Regions from separate parts of the Homo sapiens genome. Here region 1 is reported to be linked to region 2. The links are microRNA targets in miRTarBase. Many come from high-throughput screens and were not tested one by one. Region 2 holds a microRNA gene; the other region holds the end of a gene's coding sequence.
What was found. Region 2 holds the annotated microRNA hsa-miR-3660 (ACUGACAGGAGAGCAUUUUGA, at 1,257-1,277, opposite strand). A microRNA usually pairs through its seed, bases 2 to 8, with sites in the 3' UTR of a target mRNA and lowers its output. Matches are read on the target gene's strand: a 7mer-m8 pairs with bases 2 to 8, a 7mer-A1 pairs with bases 2 to 7 and ends in A, and an 8mer does both.

Region 1 (3,000 bases), not on the chromosome of region 2:
AATTATTTTTGGGCTGGGCATGGTGGCTCACACCTGTAATCCTAGTGCTTTCAAGGGCGTATGCTAGAGGATTACTTGAGGCCAGGAGTTGAACATCAGTCAGGGTAAAATAGCAAAACCCTATCTCTATAAAAAATTCTTAAATTACCTGGGCTAATCTCAGGTACTCGGGAGGCTGAGGCAGGAGGATCACTTGAGCCCAGGAGTTTGAGGCCGCAGTGAGGTATGACCATGCCAGTGTATTCCAGCCTGAGTTTCAGAGTGACATCATTTCCCTAAAAAAATAAAAATTAAAGAATTATGATTTCTTTCTCCAGGCTTATAACGTAGGACACTATCCTACAGAATTCTGGACTTCAGGACACATGAATGCACTGTAGGACTTGAGAACAGATTTCCCTCACCAGTACTGAGCAGAATGCAATATCCATTATAAACAAGAGAATAATTTTGTGCTGTTCTCAGAAGCACCAAAGTGTGTCACTAAAACTGTCCCCTACTCAGGTTGATTTATGAAAACACATATTATTGCACTATTTCATCTAAAAATAAAGATCACAAAGCCCTGAAGTCTTTATTTGGAGGCCTTAGGCAGCCATCCAAACTAGGCCACAAATGCAGAGCTATATTCTGCCTTCATACTGTTCCCTAAGAGTCACACAGTTTAGTAACCCCAACAAACTTTCATGGTACCAGAATCCTTCATGGTACCAGAACCATGTTGTATCTAAGCCACACAATGCAGTGAGTATACAATTCACACAATACAGTCAATACAATTCCCAAGATTGAAGGAAGCTTAAATAAGGACTTCATCATAGCAGAAACCAGAACAATGAGAGGCAGCTTGTACTTGGGTTGGTGAGTTAAGAGGCTGGAAAATTCCATTTTAAGAATCATGACAATCATGAGATTCCTAGGAAAGACAGCCCATCTTGTCAAGTAATCAGAAAAATTCTCTAGGCCAAGCTGGTCCAACCCGCAGCTTGTGGGCCGCATGTATCTCAGGACAGCTTTGAATGCAGCCCAACACAAATTTGTAAACTTTCTTAAAACATTATGAGGGTTTTTGTGTGATTTTTTAAAAAAGTTCATCAGCTATCATTAGTGTTAATGTATTTCATATGCGGCACAAGACAATTCTTCTTCCAATGTGGACCAGGAAAGCCAAAAGATTGGACACTTCTGCTCTAGGCCAGAACTGAGTCAGGTCCATGGCCTAACTCTTCATAGAGAAATGAGAAAGGAACGAGTGCAGAGGCTACTCAAAAATACCACTGCTGAATGGGAGACAACTTGAACTTTTTTTCTGGAATATGATGGAGTGCATGAGTGATGCACTGTAGGTACCTGCCAAGTGGTAGAGATGAAATGGCTTTTGCCAGAGACCTAAGAATGAAATAAATCTGGCAAGGACATACGCAGGATAAGAAATGCAATACAGCTCCCATATACCTGGAATTTATGCAGCTACTGGACATATGACATTCAATATAGGTTGATGGTGTCCTCATAAGGGCTCTCTCCCACAGTTACACTGGACAAGAAGTAATATTCCCACACATCTATGTTATTTTTCTCCTGTCAACATTCTGGTATCCAGTGAAAGAAGAGTGAAGCCCTCGCAAATGCTCTGCACTCAAAAGGCACTTCCACAGCAGGAGCTTGTCTGTGCATAATATGTTAGACATTTAGATAAAGAATGTGCCATATTTGTCACACCATAAAGCCTTGATCCAGTGTGAACTCTGATTTTGAAGGAGCATAGAGGTTTGACTAATCAATTTTCCAAATTTACTTCACTGAGAAGGGCTTTCTCTAGTGTGAACTTGCAGGGCAGAGCTTCTAGTGAATGTCTTTCCATATTTGCTACACTGTTGAGGCCTTTCTCTAGCATGAACTCTCCTGTGTTTAATGAAACCAGAGTTTTCCCACAAAGGATTTTCTACTCGCTGCTCTCATAAGGCTTTGTCCAGTGTGAACTCTTACGAACATGGAGCGCAGAGCTGTACGGAAATGATTTCTCACATTTATTATGTGAGAAATTATTATGTGGCCTTTCTCCATTGTAAATTATCTGATGAATAGTAATGCAGCTCTTCTGGCTAAATAATTTTACAAATTCCTTACAGTCATATGGCCTTTCTCAACTGTGAACTCAGTAGTGTTCAGTGAGGTGGGACTTCTTGTTAGGTAATTTCCCAAATTCCCCATAACTATAGGGTCTTTCTCCAGTGTGACCCTTCTGGTATTTGGTGAGGCAAAACTTCTATGTACAGGATTTCATACATTCTCTACACTCAGAAAGCCTTTCCCCAGTGTGATCTTGCTATTGTTGAATGAGGCCAACCTTTTGGCTAGATGATTTTGCACATTCTCCATACTCATAAGTGCTTTCCAGTGTGATCTCACGAATGTTGAATGAGGGTGCTCTTTTTACCAACAGATCTGCCAAATTTTCAACATTCATGATGTCTTTCTCCCGTGTGAACTCGTTGATGTTTAATGAGGTTTCCCTTTTGACGAAAACACTTTCCACATTCTCCACACTCATGTGGCCTTTCTCCAGAGTGAATCTGCTGATGTCGAATGAGACTGCCCTTTTGATGAAAACATTTCCCACATTCTCCACACTCATGTGGCCTTTCTCCAGAGTGGATCTGCTGATGTTGAATGAGACTGCCCTTTTGATGAAAACATTTCCCACATTCTCTACACTCATATGGCCTTTCTCCAGTGTGAACTCTCTGGTGTTCAGTGAGGTGTGACTTGTACCTAAATGATTTCCTACATTCTTTACACTCATAGGGTCTTTCTCCAGTGTGAACTCTCTGGTGTTCCTTTAGGTGGGAGTTGCTCCTAAATAACTTCCCACATGCCGTACACTCAAAAGGTCTTTCTCCAGTGTGAACTCGCTGATGCTGAATGAGGTTGCACTTGTGATTAAACGATTTCCCACATTCTCCACACTGATAAGGTCTTTCTCCAGTGTGAACTCGC
Region 2 (3,536 bases):
GCAGATATTATGATTTTGAAAGTAATATTTATTTGGATAATATCAGAAAACCAACCTAAACAAATTTTTTCTTCTCATGCTATTATTCTGAAACTTCCATGGTTATTTTTGTATACATTTTTCTTTCCCTCTTCCTTACAATCCTTATAACTTTATCCTCACTGGAGTTATTCTGTGTTGGAGCAGATAAACAAAATGAATTCTTACACTGTATTAGCCGAAGGGCAGCAGACATGAGAAGAAAAGAGAAGTGGTGTTCACAGTCGAAGGACGTGCTTTTCAGTAGTGATTCAGACAATTCAGAAAAGCTTACTCATCTCTTTCCTATCTGCTAGTGTGACCACTGTATTCTTCTTTTTCAGATTGCCTTCAGGGTTATCTGCTGTTTGAGTGTCATTACAAAAGTCAGGTCTGCTCAGGATCATGTCAAATAATTTATCCCCATGTCCTCATTTTAACTCCCCATTGCTTCTTCTCAGCCCTGTGCTCTGGGTCCTCACCACACATCAGGTCATAGAAGCTGGGTGCCCCCTCACATTGCTTTCTTTCTTATTATGCATACCAGTGTTATGCAAACCCTACAGGAGTATCTTAGGTTATGCAGTTTTCCCATGACATTTAAAGGAACCCTAAGCCTCTTGTGGGAAGTAAGATAAGGCATCCTTAGAAAGTGTTATCTCTACAGTTTACTACATTGGGATTACTATTCACTCAACTAAATATGATTTCAAAAAGTTAATTGTATTTTCTAGATATCTTAAAAAGAAACCATACATTTTTAAAAACATGCTGCTTTAACTTTGTCTAGAATCTTACTCCCTGCCCCCAAATTTAACAGCTTAGCTTTTCCATTGCTTAAGTAAGTGCCTTGTATTTGAATAATACAGCTTAATCAGATTTTTGAAAGCTTTTATTACATCGTTTTAAAGTGGCATAAATAATGTAAAGTAAGCCTAATTTCACATTAGACACCTTCTATGGCGGCTTATGAAGCTCAAGTTTTTTTAGTTTTTTTTTTTTTTTTTTTTTTTAATTAAGGCGATTCCAGCAGTCATTTCTGACTCTGTGGCATCTTTCTGCAAATCCTGTCCACTTTACTGCTATACCGAGGTTCATTTGTGTCATTCAAATCTTTGCTCTTTAAATATCCACTTATAAATTTATTATGGCAATACATTCATATCTTTACATTTAATCTGAAACTTCGGTAACAAGCAGGAGATGGAATAAATGAGTAGCAGACACACTTGACAAAGTCAAAATGCTCTCCTGTCAGTGCCCATATGAACTATTACAATGACAGAAGAGCATTTTAATTTTGTCCAGTTCTTCTTTCTCCTTTTCACTCTGCATTTCTCCTTCTCCAGCTGGCTACGGAAACTTTGATAAAAGATCCAGACTTTAAATGCCCAATATCCTCAAAAAAATGTCAGAGAATGTTTTAAAATCATAGATTTTGAATGACACAGATGAACTTCACTTGCAGCACTGCTGCAGTGGGGAATTTATCATTTTGTTAATTAAGAAGGGTTTTCCAATAGTCACTCCAGAAATTGCCTCTGGAATATCATTAATTAACAATCTTACTTCCACCATGGGAGGGAGGAATGAGGCCGAGCAGCAAAACTCACAAAAGGACTAACTTAAAATACACACACACACACACACACACACGCATTTGAAAAGCACCAGACAAATCTGGAAAAGAGGAGGGGAATGAATTACTTAACACAAATATTATAGGATCAACAGAGCTAACAAAAAATCCAATTCATAGCATTTAAAGCTATCTTAGTTCACAGGCCTTATGCTAGTCCCGAAATAAAGTCAACAATTTAGAAACTCTATCTGAACTAAATAATTTACCATGTTGTTTGGAATTTAAGGGCTTTCCCCCCAACAATGACTGCTTCCTTTCTAGGGAAGAAGAAAACAAGTCTTTTTTCCCCCCAGTTTTCTTATTTGTTGAGTATCCAGGTAACAAACTACTTAAAATCAACCAAACAAAACTTGATAATTGGCCCTATCCCCATGTGAGCCACAGAAGGATGTAACCATGGCAACCTGTCATTTAGAACAGACCATCTCACGTACCTTTCAGAATTTAAGCATATGAGAACTTATCCATTCCCAAGTAGAATTATCATGCCGGGAACATTTTGTTCTTTATTGCAGAGGAAGTATAAAGCCAGACTCTTAAATTGTTCTCAACAAGGTGTTCAGGAGAAAAGGAGGTTCAGTAGCCACGAAAAGATGGAGATACATACACTAATCTAAAGTTCTTTCTGTTGAGGAGTAAACAAGAATAGACTTGAGGAAAGGGCAATCATTAAAGCCGTGGTGACTGTAGCAGAATAGCTTGGTGAAACCTAAGTTTTCAAAGTAAGAATCTTTTCCAATGAGGAAAACAGCAGCTGACTGACACAAACACAGACCCTCCTTGATTTTAAAGGAGTTTGATCTTCATAGTCACTTTTAGCACACCAGAAAGTATTATTTCCCTCACATTTTTGCTGGTTGTTTTTTTTTTTTTTTTTTTTTTTTTTTTTTGGCAATCAAGACCTACAATAAGACTTTACCTCTCTGGATTTCATAATACAGGAAACTTTTTTTTTTGTTACTTTTTTTTTGTTGTTGTTAGTATTTAGTGACAGGGCTCAAACTGGCTGGGAATGTTCTGATAGACTCTTAATCTTCAGGTGTCTCAAACTGAACATAAAAGAGTTTGAAAAGTATTTCTTATTGAGATGACCAAGTCGCTTTTCTTTAACCATCAAAATGGTAATCATGATTAAAATCTGTGATCAATTTTAATTGTAGCAATGAAATGACAACCAACTTCTCCATTTCCACTAGAAAAATTTTAGAGAGTAAGAACATAAAAAGAGAACCTAGTGTCGGAACATCTCAAATTGTAAGGCTAGCCAGAATGAAGTAAGTTTTGTTAGAGCCAGGTGTATTCTCTTTGTAGTCTCTACATCAAGGGGCTATAATGGGTGTCTGAAGAAAAATCACGGGTTGATTTTATCCTTTATATTTAACATGCTGTCAAATTTATATTTCCACATTACTGCAATATGGGGATCACTGGGAACTGTGACTAACACTTTTGTCTATGTACAATAGTGTGGCATCTATAATAATTCTCTAACTCCTATTCACATCAACAAATGTGTATTGAGAACATACTCTGTGAAAGATACGCTGAAAAGAGTGGTGGGGCATGCCAAGAAGCAGTAGGTGATTTACCTAGAAGCTAATGTAAATTTAGGGCTCTTCCCCTAAATGACTCCCTTGCAAGAACCTAGCAGGGATGCTAGCAGTTTTTAAATTCATAGTTATTATTTTCCATTAAAAACACTTCCACAATTGCATGATCTTTAGGCTCCACAAAATCTAAATGGGCTGCCCTATCATCTCCCACTAAAGTTTAGTGGAAGCATCTGAAAACTTAGCACCATTTTTCTGTTTGAAAGTGTTGCAAGAACCACAATGAGGAGCCAATTGACAATGCTGCTAGAAGTTTGGAGACTTAA

Region 1: miRTarBase lists ZNF776 as a target of hsa-miR-3660. The part of its 3' UTR that is shown has no 7-base or 8-base seed match.

Annotation. Positions count from the first base shown.
Region 1 is chr19:57,754,147-57,757,146 of GRCh38, reverse strand. ZNF776 (zinc finger protein 776) reads right to left here. Exons shown (of 3, transcript NM_173632.4): 3 at 1-3,000. The coding sequence ends at 2,460. Among named protein-coding and RNA genes, the nearest start is that of ZNF776, 8.8 kb to the right of the region's middle.
Region 2 is chr5:90,015,385-90,018,920 of GRCh38, forward strand. It overlaps MIR3660 (microRNA 3660), which reads right to left and starts at 1,336; the gene lies at 1,237-1,336.